Linked DNA regions of Homo sapiens: region 2 is linked to region 1. A link means that fine-mapping ties the variant in region 1 to the expression of a gene that starts in the linked region. Tissue or cell type: whole blood. Region 1 holds a variant in brackets; the other region holds the start of a gene. All regions are shown on one strand. Distances are from middle to middle.

Region 1 (5,714 bases):
GTCCTAGGGCTGTGCGGCCCTCCAGGGCTCAAAGGATTGGGGTGGACACAGGCCCTGCGTGGGGTGGGGGGGGGGCCCGGTGCGGGGGCGGGGGAAGCAGCCTCGGACCAAGTGAGCGATAGGCTGCCCCAAGCACAGGCCAAGGCGCGTCTGAGAGTGGCTGTCCCGGAACGGGGCGACAGGCGTCACAGAAAAGCCACGGAGGCCCCGGAGGCCCCGCAGCCAGCAGCCAGGGGGCCGGGCCAAAGCTAGCGACACACGCAAATCTGCAATTATCCCAGAGCGCTAAACACATCAGAGGAAACAAAACAGACGCGCCGGCGAATCCCAGCCTCCGCTGTTTTCAAAACAAGCGCGAGGGGGGTGCCGCGGGGCGTGGGGCTGGGGGGTCGGCAAGGACCCCGGCCGCCCCTTCCCGCAGCGCCGCGCCCGTGGGTAGGCGCGGGGAGGGACTGGGTGGAGAGCGCGCGGGAGACCCGGCGAGGGCGAGACCGGCGGCCCCGCCACCCAGCCCCACCCACCGGTGACCCGGGTCAGAGTTCAGCCCGGGAGGCGGGGGGCGGTGTCTCCTGGGTGGGTCTGCGAGCCCGGTACCCGGCCAGAGCCAAAGGCGGGCACCCGGCCTGTGTGGAGCGCCCTGGACTATTCCTCGCAGGCCGACCCAGGTGGCACAGCCCCTCCCCCGGCGCCGGCACCGCCAGACTCCCCGGAGGGCGCAGAACGGTTGCCCGGGAGCCAGGGGCAAAGCGCGCCCGGGGCCAGGAAGCGCAGGGACTAGGCCCGCGCCTCCTCGGCGCCGCCCACTGCCCCCCGCGAGCCCAAGCTCCACGGCCACCGCCCGCGCCCTCCCGGGGACTCCGGCGCCCCGTCCGCCCCTCGGCCTCGCGCACCTGGAGGGAGCACGTGGCCGCCTCTGGGACAAACCTCACCAGGCCGGGGGCCCAGGACGCGCGGGCGGGTGGGAGTCTGACCCGAGTAACAATGACGGCGGCGGCGACAGTCACACGAGCGCAGGAGACGTCGTCCCCGCGGGGCGCTCACCTGGCGTCGGGCACATCGGATCGCACAGCCGGCCATTACCTAAGTCCTCCGAGCCGTGGAAGGGGCGCGGGGAGCAGCTCCGCCCCGCCGATGGTGGCTCCGCCCGTGCCCCCGGTCGGTCTCAGGGCTCGGCCCCTCCCGGCCCAGCTGCCAATCATGCACGACCCTGCCCGGAGCAGCCTCCCGCAGGACTCCGGACCCAGGGTCAAGGCCAGACTCACCCGAGGCAAAGGCCGAACGCTCCCGGCACAACCCGACCTAGGAGCTGGGGCGGGGCGGGGCGGGGCGGGGCTCCAGGGACAGACTGATGTGGAGGCCTGAGCCTCGCTTCAGCGTCTACAGCGGTCCCCGCTGGACTCTCGGCTGAGGACCCCTCCCAGGTGGAGGCCGTCGCACCCCTTCCCCGCCAGCCTGGTTTCAGGGTGGGGTTCCTACTTAGGGCCAGCCTCCCCTGCAGTCTGGGCTCTGGGTCCCAGCAGGAAAAGTCACCCTGGCTGGTGGCAGTGATGGGGTCACCAGCCCAGGATCCTGGGGGTGCCCCATGAAGCCCCAGCTCCTCCTGTCACTTGCTCCAGCCGAGTTAGTCACAGCCCCCACTGGTCCACACCTCCTGACACACCCAGGCCACCTGGTACCCAGGGCCTCTGTATCTAGCCCTGGCCCTCAGGCACCCCCTGAGCTCACCTGGCCATGCCCAAGGGGCCTGCCCCAGCCCCCTCTCCGCCTCTGCACCAAGTGCAGCCCCTGTATATGGTGCGTCCCTAGACTGGGGCCCCAGGCTGCCCTCCCATCCTACACACAGTTGTGAGGCCCTCCTCAGCCTCCTCTCTGGCCACGGCCCACTGGCGCATCTGGAGGATGGTCCTCCCCAGCCCTCAGACAGAAGGTGGGATCCAGTTGGCTACGGCGCCCTGTCCCCACACGCACCAGGCCTGCAGAACCACCTCTCTCCTCAACCACCCCTTTCGGGGTCCCAGACCCCATCCTGTCCAACCTGGGCACAGCTGCAGCCCCCTCTTGCTACACCGTGGTCCTTCGGGTCAGAAAGCTGGGCAGCGCAATGAACCTACCGATGTCTCCGTGCTTCCTGAGGACCTCCTGTGGGAGGGGTGGGCACCGCCAGGCGCTCGGGGCACACGAGGCCGATGGCTACAGCAGGAACCACCAACTCATCAGGACAGGACATGCGGTCAGACAGCAGGCGGCCACGGAGGGACTCTCGTGGGATTCTGGGGCTCAGTCACTTGGAGTCTCTCCTGAAAGGAGGCCTCCCGGCCCGCCGG[T/G]GCCCAGCCCCACCTGCAGGCTCTCCTCTGAGTGGCCCCCACGCATCTCCCCCTTTCCAGCTCAACCCCGCAGCAGCCGGCTGCTCAGAGACCAGGTCCTGCCTGGATGCAGCTGGCTCAAGACCAGCCCCCGCCCACAGCCCCCTTCTCACCCCCGGGGTGGGCGTTGGGGGGTGGACGGGTGAGGCCCCAGCCAGTGAGCAGTAAGCAAGGCCTGTAATCTCCCCGTCAGCCTGTCAGCGCCTCAGCGGTCACCCCAGCCCCGCCTCGCCCATCACCGCTGAACCCCACAATTAGCTTGGGGCACCGCGCCAAGCCTGTGTGCCAGACACCACTTGCACACATGACCACACATGTGCAGACACACATGGCTGGGTGCTGCCGGAAAAGCCCTGCCAACAGGGTCTCACCCCAACACCCAGAACTCGTCCCCAGTACAAAGAGCCTGGGAGAGAAGCCTCAGGCCGGGGCACTTGGGCTAAGAGGGGCAGTGGGGCTCTCAGAACCCAGCGCTGCCTGGAGCCCCGAGGGAGGGGCCATGTGTGGCATGGGGAAGTGGGGTGGGGGCAGGGCCGTCTCAGCAGGGGAGAGGGGCTGCGTCTGCCCAGGATGAGCTGGGGGCTGGTGAGGCACAGGGTGTTGGGCAGGACCTGGGTCCAGGCCAAGGGTGAGGCAGCCCAGGGTGTGGGCTGGGCCCCACAGGGGCAAACACTCAGGGCTTTGGGAGGCCAGAGGGACAGGGATTTCCCAGTGAGGAAATGCCCATCTCAGAGTGGGGGCAGGACAGTGAGTGGGAGGTGATGCCCGTGGCTGGAGCTGTGTGGGGAGGTGGGTGCCCCTGGAGGCCAGGTCCAGCCCCTTGCTCCACGCGGAGGCTTGCTCTGCTCATGGTGGAGCTGAGGACTTCAAACCCCACAGGGCCTGGTCGAGAGCCACTGGGCCCCAGGTCTAGATGTGGAACTGGGGGACCCTCCAGCGAGCTTTGCTGGGCCTGGGCGGCCTGCCTGGGGCGCCCCACCTTCACGCCCTCCTCCCTAACATCCTTTTCTCCTGAAGTCCCTCAGGGTGGTCACCAGATCAGGCTCGGTGCCAACATAGGAGTGGGGAGGCCAAGCCCCTCAGCTCCCCTGGCCAATCTCTGAGGCTGAGAGGGAGTGGGGGGGGCCATGCTGGAGCACCTCCCTCCCACCACCTGCCCCTTGCCCCTGTCAACTGCTGGCTCCACTTAAAATAGCTTCTCCCCCTCGCTGGTGGGAGGGAGGCCCTGGTGTCAAGCCGGTAAGGCTGGAGCAAGGCTGGGCACAGGGCCTGGGCTCAGCAGTGTTCTGTGCCCTCCATCTCCTCCAAAGCAGGCCCCAGCTCTGAAAACACACCTGACAGGGCTGGGATCCACAGAGTCCTCACCTCCTGCTGGTCCTCAAACCCCACTCTCCATGGCTGGGTCCCTGAAATACTTGGATTACCCTCAAGCCCCCCGCCATCCCCCCAAGCTGTGGCTCCCATGCCACCCTACCACGTCTGAGTCACACAGGCCCAGGCCTCCCTTGCTTCCCCCAGGAGAGACCCCCCCACACTCCTGCTTCTGGCCTGTCCTCAGAGCCCCAGAACTCACCTAGGTTCAAAGCCAGACCCCAGCTGAGGACAGAGCATGGACCCCAGGCAAATGCAGTGACAATCACAGAGCACGCTCCTACCACAGCCACCCACGCAGCCTGAGGCATAGCCCCCTGGAAACTGCCTCGGCCTTCAGCACCCCACTTTGGACCAGCAGGGCAGGGGGGTTCCTCCTCTGAGAAGTCCTCAAAGCTGCCTGGAAGGAGCAGACAGTGCCCCCAGACGCCAATCTGACAGGGGGCCCAATCTGTCTCTGAGCAGGTGGCATGCTGGCTCGGGGGCCCCAGACCACAACAGAAGGTCACCTGGGAAGAGAGCCGCAGCCCTACACAAGGCTCGTGGGCAGGAACCGTCCCAGCCACAGGAGCAGACGCCCTTGCCTGGCCCCTCAGGGGGCCGTGTTCACACAGGAGGCCTTCTCAGAGGTGGACACCAAGCACTTCTCTCTCTTGCGCTTGCTGCGGGACTCAGCTGGGGCAGCATCAGGCCCAGAAATCGGTGCTGGACACTGTGTCTCCACACAGGGCCCCCCATGGAAGCTGCTGACCAGCTGTGCCAGAGGGGCCGGGGCCCTACCCCCAGGAGCCCAGTCCCTGCCTCTGATGCTGCTGCTGCTGGGACCCTGCTGGCAGAGCTGGTGGCTGAACTGGGGCAGCACCTCCCTCTCCTGCCCCAGGCCTGGGCCGGGACTCAGCTGGCACTGGAATGAGGAACTATTGGCTTTCAGAAGCCAGGAGACCTTAGGGGGCTGAGGAAGAGAGCTGGACCTGCCCCCAGGCGCCCTGATCCCAGCCCAGGGCAGTCTCCTCCCTCACCTAGCCTGGGACATGAGGCAGCTCAGGTGTGGCCTTAGGGGCTACCCCCAGGGAAGGCCACCAACCATAGCGGGCCACGGTGTGGGCTGGCCTCTGGGTGTGAAGGGCTCCAGGATCTGGGCTGCAGAGGCGGGACTGTGCGAAACAGAACCCCCAGCTCCACAGCCAGGCCAGCCCCAGGCTCCTCCCCAGACAGACATCCCCGGGGGTGGGGCAAACCTGCAGTACCACCAGGGGCAGCCTGTCCCACCATCCCCGGCACCACTGGGCCTGGGGCCAGTCACTGTCACAGGTTCATGAATCTCACAGGGCAGGGTGGATCCACTGGGGGGGTGCGGGGTGCCAGTGTTCAGGGCCAGACGGGAGGGGCCCAGCCAATCCCTTCACACGCTTGGTCTTCAGAGAGAAGGCTTCTGAGCCAGGAGGGCCACTGTGTCAGGGCCTGGCTTGAGGCCACACCTGTGGCTGGGGGAGCCCAGAACAGTGCAGGGTCCTTCCCTGGTAGGCAGAGAAAGGCAGGGGTCCTTACAATCCAGGGGTATGGGAAGAAGCAGGCCCTGTGTCAAGGGATGTGAAACCACGGAAAGGAAGAAGGTGGAGGAACCTCGACCAGAAAGAGGGAAGCTAGGGCAGCTGCCTCCCCGGGGCCCCAGAGCCTGAGCACCCCCCACCAGCCAAGGCTCTGACCCACCCTCCCCATCGTGTAATTAGTCAGAGACCCAGCCCCACCCCACCCACAGCCCCACCCCAAACACAAACAGCCACTACCCCTGAGGGAGGGAGGGGCTGTGGCCAGTCCCAGCCCTACTGAATCTCCCACCCCCAGAGAACCTGGATCTGCCTCAGAGAAGGGAGGTCAAGGCTGGGGGGCCACTTGCTGGCCACTGGGTGAATTCTGAGCAGCTCACCACCTCATCCCCAAACCGTGTCCAAGGCAGGCTCTGGGCACAAGAGGTTCCCC
Region 2 (5,356 bases), 170 kb after region 1:
CAGACAGGATGTCCAGATCCAGGCCAAGACAAGCTATCCGCCAATCCTAATCCCCAACCCAAGAGACCCTGCATCCCGCCCTGAAGTCCTAGCCTGACAGAACAGAGAGGATCCTCTACCCACTCAGAAGTGCCTGTTGTGTCTGTGCCTAGAGAGTTCACACACCTGCTGCTCAGTCACTAATGAAAGAAACTCATCATTTCCAGGGCCTCCTGTGTGCTACTGCTTCACACCTGTGCATTCGCTGCATCCTCACGGCAGCCTGGGAGGTTAGCATGACTCACTCCATCCCCAGATGAGGAAACTGAGGCACAGAGAGCCAAACAACTGGCTCGAAGTCACAAGGCTATCAAGGGGCAAAGCAGAGACAAGTGACCCCCACGCCACACTCCTCTGCTTCTTCCCCCAGCTCCCACCGGCCCTGGTACCTGGCTCTGCCCTCAGCCCATGACCAGGGTCCCAGTCTATAGCCTTGTTCCCCTCAAGAATGAACAAGTCCTTCTAAGGGGTGCCTGGGGCTGCAAGGCCAGCAAGCAGCTGACCAGCTCAACCCCAGAAGGTAGTGGGTACAGGGCTCCACGGTCCTCCAACCCTACTGCAGTGGACCACTTATCACTCCTTCCGGTCACTTAGGGGAAGGGGGGGCACCTTGGGCTCCAGCCTTCTACCCTGTCCTGCGCAAAGGACACACACAAACAGGTGCCTGCACTACGTGTGGCTCCAGCAGTGAGCACACACGTCACAGCCAGCTTGTTGTGGAGCCCACTCTGCCTCTTCTCTCTGCCTACCTTCAACTCCTCACCCCACGGCCACCACGCCTCCCACCTGGCCTTTGCCTGCAGTCTCTACCAACCCAAACCCTCTCCACACTGCCCTCAGGATCATCAGGGTCATTATCAGCTGTTCCTGTAGCCCCCGCCCCAGCCCTCAGCCCAAGGCCCCTCACGCCAAGACAGCCCTCAGCCAGCCTTGCTTCCCTGGATCCTCAGGCACCCTCTGCCCCAGGTGGTAAGGCCTCCTCCATGCCCCTCATAGGTGCCTCGGTGCAGACAGCTCCCTCTGTGGGTCAAGACAACATTGACAGCCAACCTGCACAGTGGGGATGAGGACTATGTGGTCCTAGCAAGCGAGAACTCCCTCTCTAAAGAAAAAGACAGATGCTCATGACTGACGGTGCCATAAGACACACACTTGGATAGACATGAGCAGAGAGGAGTGTGTGCTGAGTAAGAGGGCACTGAGGAGGGGCTGGAGACGAAGAAGATGCTAAAGAGGCTTCAGGAAGTGTAGGGGGGTGTCCAGCAGAAGAAACACAAAAAAGAGAGAACTCCAGGTCCTTGGTGGGGACAGTGACAACTGGACTGACAAAAAACAGGGTAACTGGGAAGGCAAGCTCAATCCCACCTCCAGGCTCAAGATCCAGCCCCTGCCTGACCACACAGCCATCCCCACACACTGCCAGTCTGCAGCTGGGATCTGACAGCCTGAGTGCCAGTCCCAGCCTCTCTGAGCCGGCTCAGGCCAGGCAGTCAGCTTATCCGCGCCTAACTTCTCTACAGATGGGGGCAACACCAGGGCAACCCCGGTGGGCTGCTGGGAGGAAGAGGTGAGATCATGTACACAAAGGGCTGTGCGGGGCCTGGCACACCAAGCACGCTCGCCAACGCTGCTGTCTCCAGGCTGTTGCTGATGTCATCGTCAGGCTCCGTTTTCTCCTACCTCCTGGGCTGAAGAGCTCTCAGACACGGGCGCTGACCCCACACACAGACCTCCTGGGCATGGGCACCGACCGCCACGCTGATACCCCACCCAGGGCTTGGCGTGCAGGGCCTGGACCGTCAGGCGAGTCGCCAGGAATGCTCTTCTCTCTACTCTCGACGCTTCCTCCTCAAATCCTCCCAGTTTCAAATCAAACACCGCTTCTCCATGCACCAAACCCGAACTCCACCCCCTCTTTGCACCCCGCCAAGACCGCCGGGGGCTTCAGACGGAGCACCAAGGTCAGAGGCGGGCTGGCGAGCCGCGGGTCCGCGCCCCTGGAGCCACTAGAGCCACAGCCGCCCGCAGCTGGCCAAGGAGAGAGCCCGTCCCACCCCAAGGAGGCCGGGCAGGCCGGGCCCAGCCTTCTCTCCCTGCCGCCACCAGGCCCGCGCGGCCACGCCGCCCCCAGCGGACGCCCATTCTCCCCACGGGCTGTCCGGTCGGCCCTGGCCTTCAGTCCCCGCCCGGCCCCCGGCCCCGGCCCTCAGTCCTCGGCTCCCCCGACCCCGGCCCTCAGCGCCCAGCCCCCGGTCCTCGGCCCTCAGCGCCCGGCCCTCAGTCCTCGGCCTCCCGACCCAGCCCCCAGCCCTCGGCCCCCAGCCCCCGGCCCTCGACCCTCAGACCCAGCCCCTGGCCCTCAGCACTCGACCCTCGGCCCCCGGCCCTCAGCGCTTGGCCTCGGCACTCACCGCGCGGGTGCGGCCCGAACGCCACCAGCACGAAGTAGTCCGCGAGCCGCGCCATGGCGAGGGACGCGGGGCGGCCCGAGGGGCGCGGGCGGGCTCCGCGGCTCGGGGACTCGAGGACGGCGCGCTCATGGCCCGGCCCCGGCCCTGGACCGCGCACCCCGGACACCCCTGGTTCGCTCCGCGGCGGCGGCGGCGGCGGCGGCGGCGGCCCAGGTTCCCGCCGCCATCTTCCCAGCCAGCCGGCCCGCCCGGGCGCGCCGTGCGCCTGCGCGCTGTCGTCAAGCCCTGAGCGGGCGGGGCCTGCAACCGCGCATCTCCATTGGTCCAGAGGGTGGGAGGGCGGCTCCCGAGAGCAGCGCCCCGCCCATCGCTGACCACTCTGGGGCCCGAGCACCGCCCCTCGGGCCGGGCACCTGGACTACGGCTCCGGCGGGTCTGACGCCCTGACCCGGGTCGGCTGTGGTGTCGGCGGGAGGCATGGGCCAGGACCACAGCTGCCCTCGCCGTTGGGACTCCCCGCACAGGAGCCCGAACCCCACCCCTGGGCCGTCCCAATCTGGGGATCGGGTCCCCAGACTCCTCGTCCCCCGCCCCTCTCTGTCCAGCGGGAGAAAGGCGGGAGAAGCCTAGGCGCTGCCTACCGGGCCCCCCAAACTAGAAGTCAGAGGAGGCGCAGGGCCATCACCTCAGGGGCTGCCAGCCTGGCGATGGGGAACAGAGAGAGAATTCAGGCCCTGCCCTTGGGGTCCCAGGCTGAAGAGCCCCCATCTAGGCCAAGTGAGACATTTAACACAGCTTAAAAACGGCACGCTCATGTCCCCCTGTAAAGAGCAAATGTTCTAAGCGTGTGAGGCACATGAGGCCACGGAGCAGGGGGCTCTGGGAAAGCTGCATCCCCCAGGATCCCTGACAGTGCCCACCCCTCTCAAGGGCAGGGCTGGCCAGGGCCACCCCTGAAGTGGCTCAGGGATGAGCATGAGCCCAGAGCAGAACATGCTGGGAGAGAAGGTGCAGGAGCCAGCCTGGTGCAGCAGGGAAACCCCTCTGAGCACAGCAGGCCAAGGTCTGTTTTTTGTTATGTTTTGTTTTGTTTTTGAGGCAGAGTCTCAATCCGTCACCCAGGCTGAAGTGCAGTGACACCATCTTGGCTCACTGGAACGTCCGTCTCCTGGGTTCAAGCAATTCTCCCGCCTCAGCTTCCCGCGTAGCTGGGATTACAGGTGTGCACCACCATGCCCGGCTAATTTTTGTATTTTAGTAGAGAGGGGGTTTCACCATGTTGGCCAGGCTGGTCTTGAACTCCTGACCTCAGGCCATCCACCCACCATGGCGTCCCAAAGTGCTGGGATTACAGGCATGAGCCACCGCCCCCAGCCCGAAGGTCTGTTTTTTGTTTTTTGTTTGTTTTTGTTTGTTTGTTTTGAGACAGAGTCTCGCTCTGTCGCCCAGGCTGGAGTACAGTGGCGTGATCTTGGCTCACTGCAAACTCCGCCTCCCAGGTTCACATCATTCTCCTGCCTCAGCCTCCCGAGTAGCTGGGACTACAAGCACCTGCCACCACGCCCAGCTAATTTTTTGTATTTTTAGTAGCGACAGGGTTTCACTGTGTTAGCCAGGATGGTCTCGATCTCCTGACCTCGTGATCCGCCCATCTCGGCCTCCCAAAGTGCTGGCATTACAGGTGTGAGCCACCGCGCCTGGCCCTGAAGGTCTGTTTTTAAATGAGTTTGGCTGCTGCAAGAACTGGCCAAATGACTGGCATCCAGTCTCCATCCATGGGCAGGAGCCAGCCCAAGAGAATGAATGGAATCAAACTGAGAGGCCCCACCAGGGTCCCCTCCCTGCCCTCAGGCACAGGCCACGCTACGCCTCTCCTCTCCCACTGTTGGTTTTCACAGGTTGAGAAATCATCTTTTTAAAATTTAATTTTTTTGTAGAGACAGGGTCTTGATAAGTTACCTAGGCTTGTCTTGAACTCCTGTCCTCAAATGATCCTCCTGCATCTGCCTCAAAAAGTGTTGGGATTACAGGTGTGAGAAACTGTGCCCTGCCAGAAATCCTCCTTTTTGCCCCAGCTGGCTCAAGTTGGTTTCTGTCACTTGTACCCAAAAAGGTCCTCAGCACCACACTACCACACCACTGAGCTTGTGTGCAGGCTGGCAGGGGCCCGGGGCAAGTCTGGGCTAGTGCTTGAGCCCAGGGCTGGCTCTCTTCGGAGAGACTCTAGGGACCCTGCACCGCACTCTCCACTCTCTCTGAGACTCTGGGGACCCTGCGTCGCACTCTCTCCACTGTCATGCTTCCACCAGGCCCTTGGGAACAACCATCCACAGTGGCTCAGTGTCTCAGATGGATGGATGCCCCTCCCTACCGCCCAGCCTGCTGATTTCTGGTCAGCTGTCTTGCAGTCTGCACTCTCCTCGAACCTCTCACCCCACTTCCAGTGTCTCTGAGATAATTGGCTGCTCCTCAGAGAGCAAATAGAAGCTATCAGATGGGAGCACCAAGCCCCCATCTTACACCTCTCACACCACCCCTCCCTCCATTACCACAGGGCTCTGCCCCCCTGCCCACTCCTCATCTCAGGCCATCATTCACTGTCAGTGCCCGCCGCCAAACTCCATCCTTCCCTGTCTATGGATTCCTTGCTATCAGAGTCAAACTTACCTCTGCCATCATAAAACACTCAAACAAAACCCCCCAAAGGCCGGGCGTGGTGGCTCATGCCTGTAAATCCCAGCACTCTGGGAGGCCCAGGCGGGTGGATCACTTGGCGTCAGGAGTTTGAGACCAACCTGCACAACATGGTGAAACCCCGTCTCTACTAAATATACAAAAAATTAGCCAGGCATGGTGACGCGTGCCTGTAATCCCAGCTACTCGGGAAGCTGAGGCAGGAGAGTTGC

What was found. PIP is the estimated chance that this variant, and not a neighbour inherited with it, causes the effect.
Region 2: it holds the start of SBF1, and the variant in region 1 is fine-mapped to the expression of SBF1 in whole blood (TOPMed, PIP above 0.99).

Annotation. Positions count from the first base shown.
Region 1 is chr22:50,299,236-50,304,949 of GRCh38, forward strand. The region is part of intron 1 of PLXNB2 (plexin B2); the gene reads right to left. Among named protein-coding and RNA genes, the nearest start is that of PLXNB2, 5.6 kb to the right of the region's middle. RefSeq lists enhancers at 1,205-1,761, 1,762-2,318 and a silencer at 2,456-2,505. The variant T/G (reference allele first, on the strand shown) is at 2,325.
Region 2 is chr22:50,472,336-50,477,691 of GRCh38, forward strand. It overlaps SBF1 (SET binding factor 1), which reads right to left and starts at 2,700. Exons shown (of 41, transcript NM_002972.4): 1 at 2,451-2,700. The coding sequence starts at 2,505. RefSeq lists enhancers at 221-1,132, 1,133-2,042, 2,953-3,862 and silencers at 2,062-2,191, 2,612-3,071, 2,652-2,856.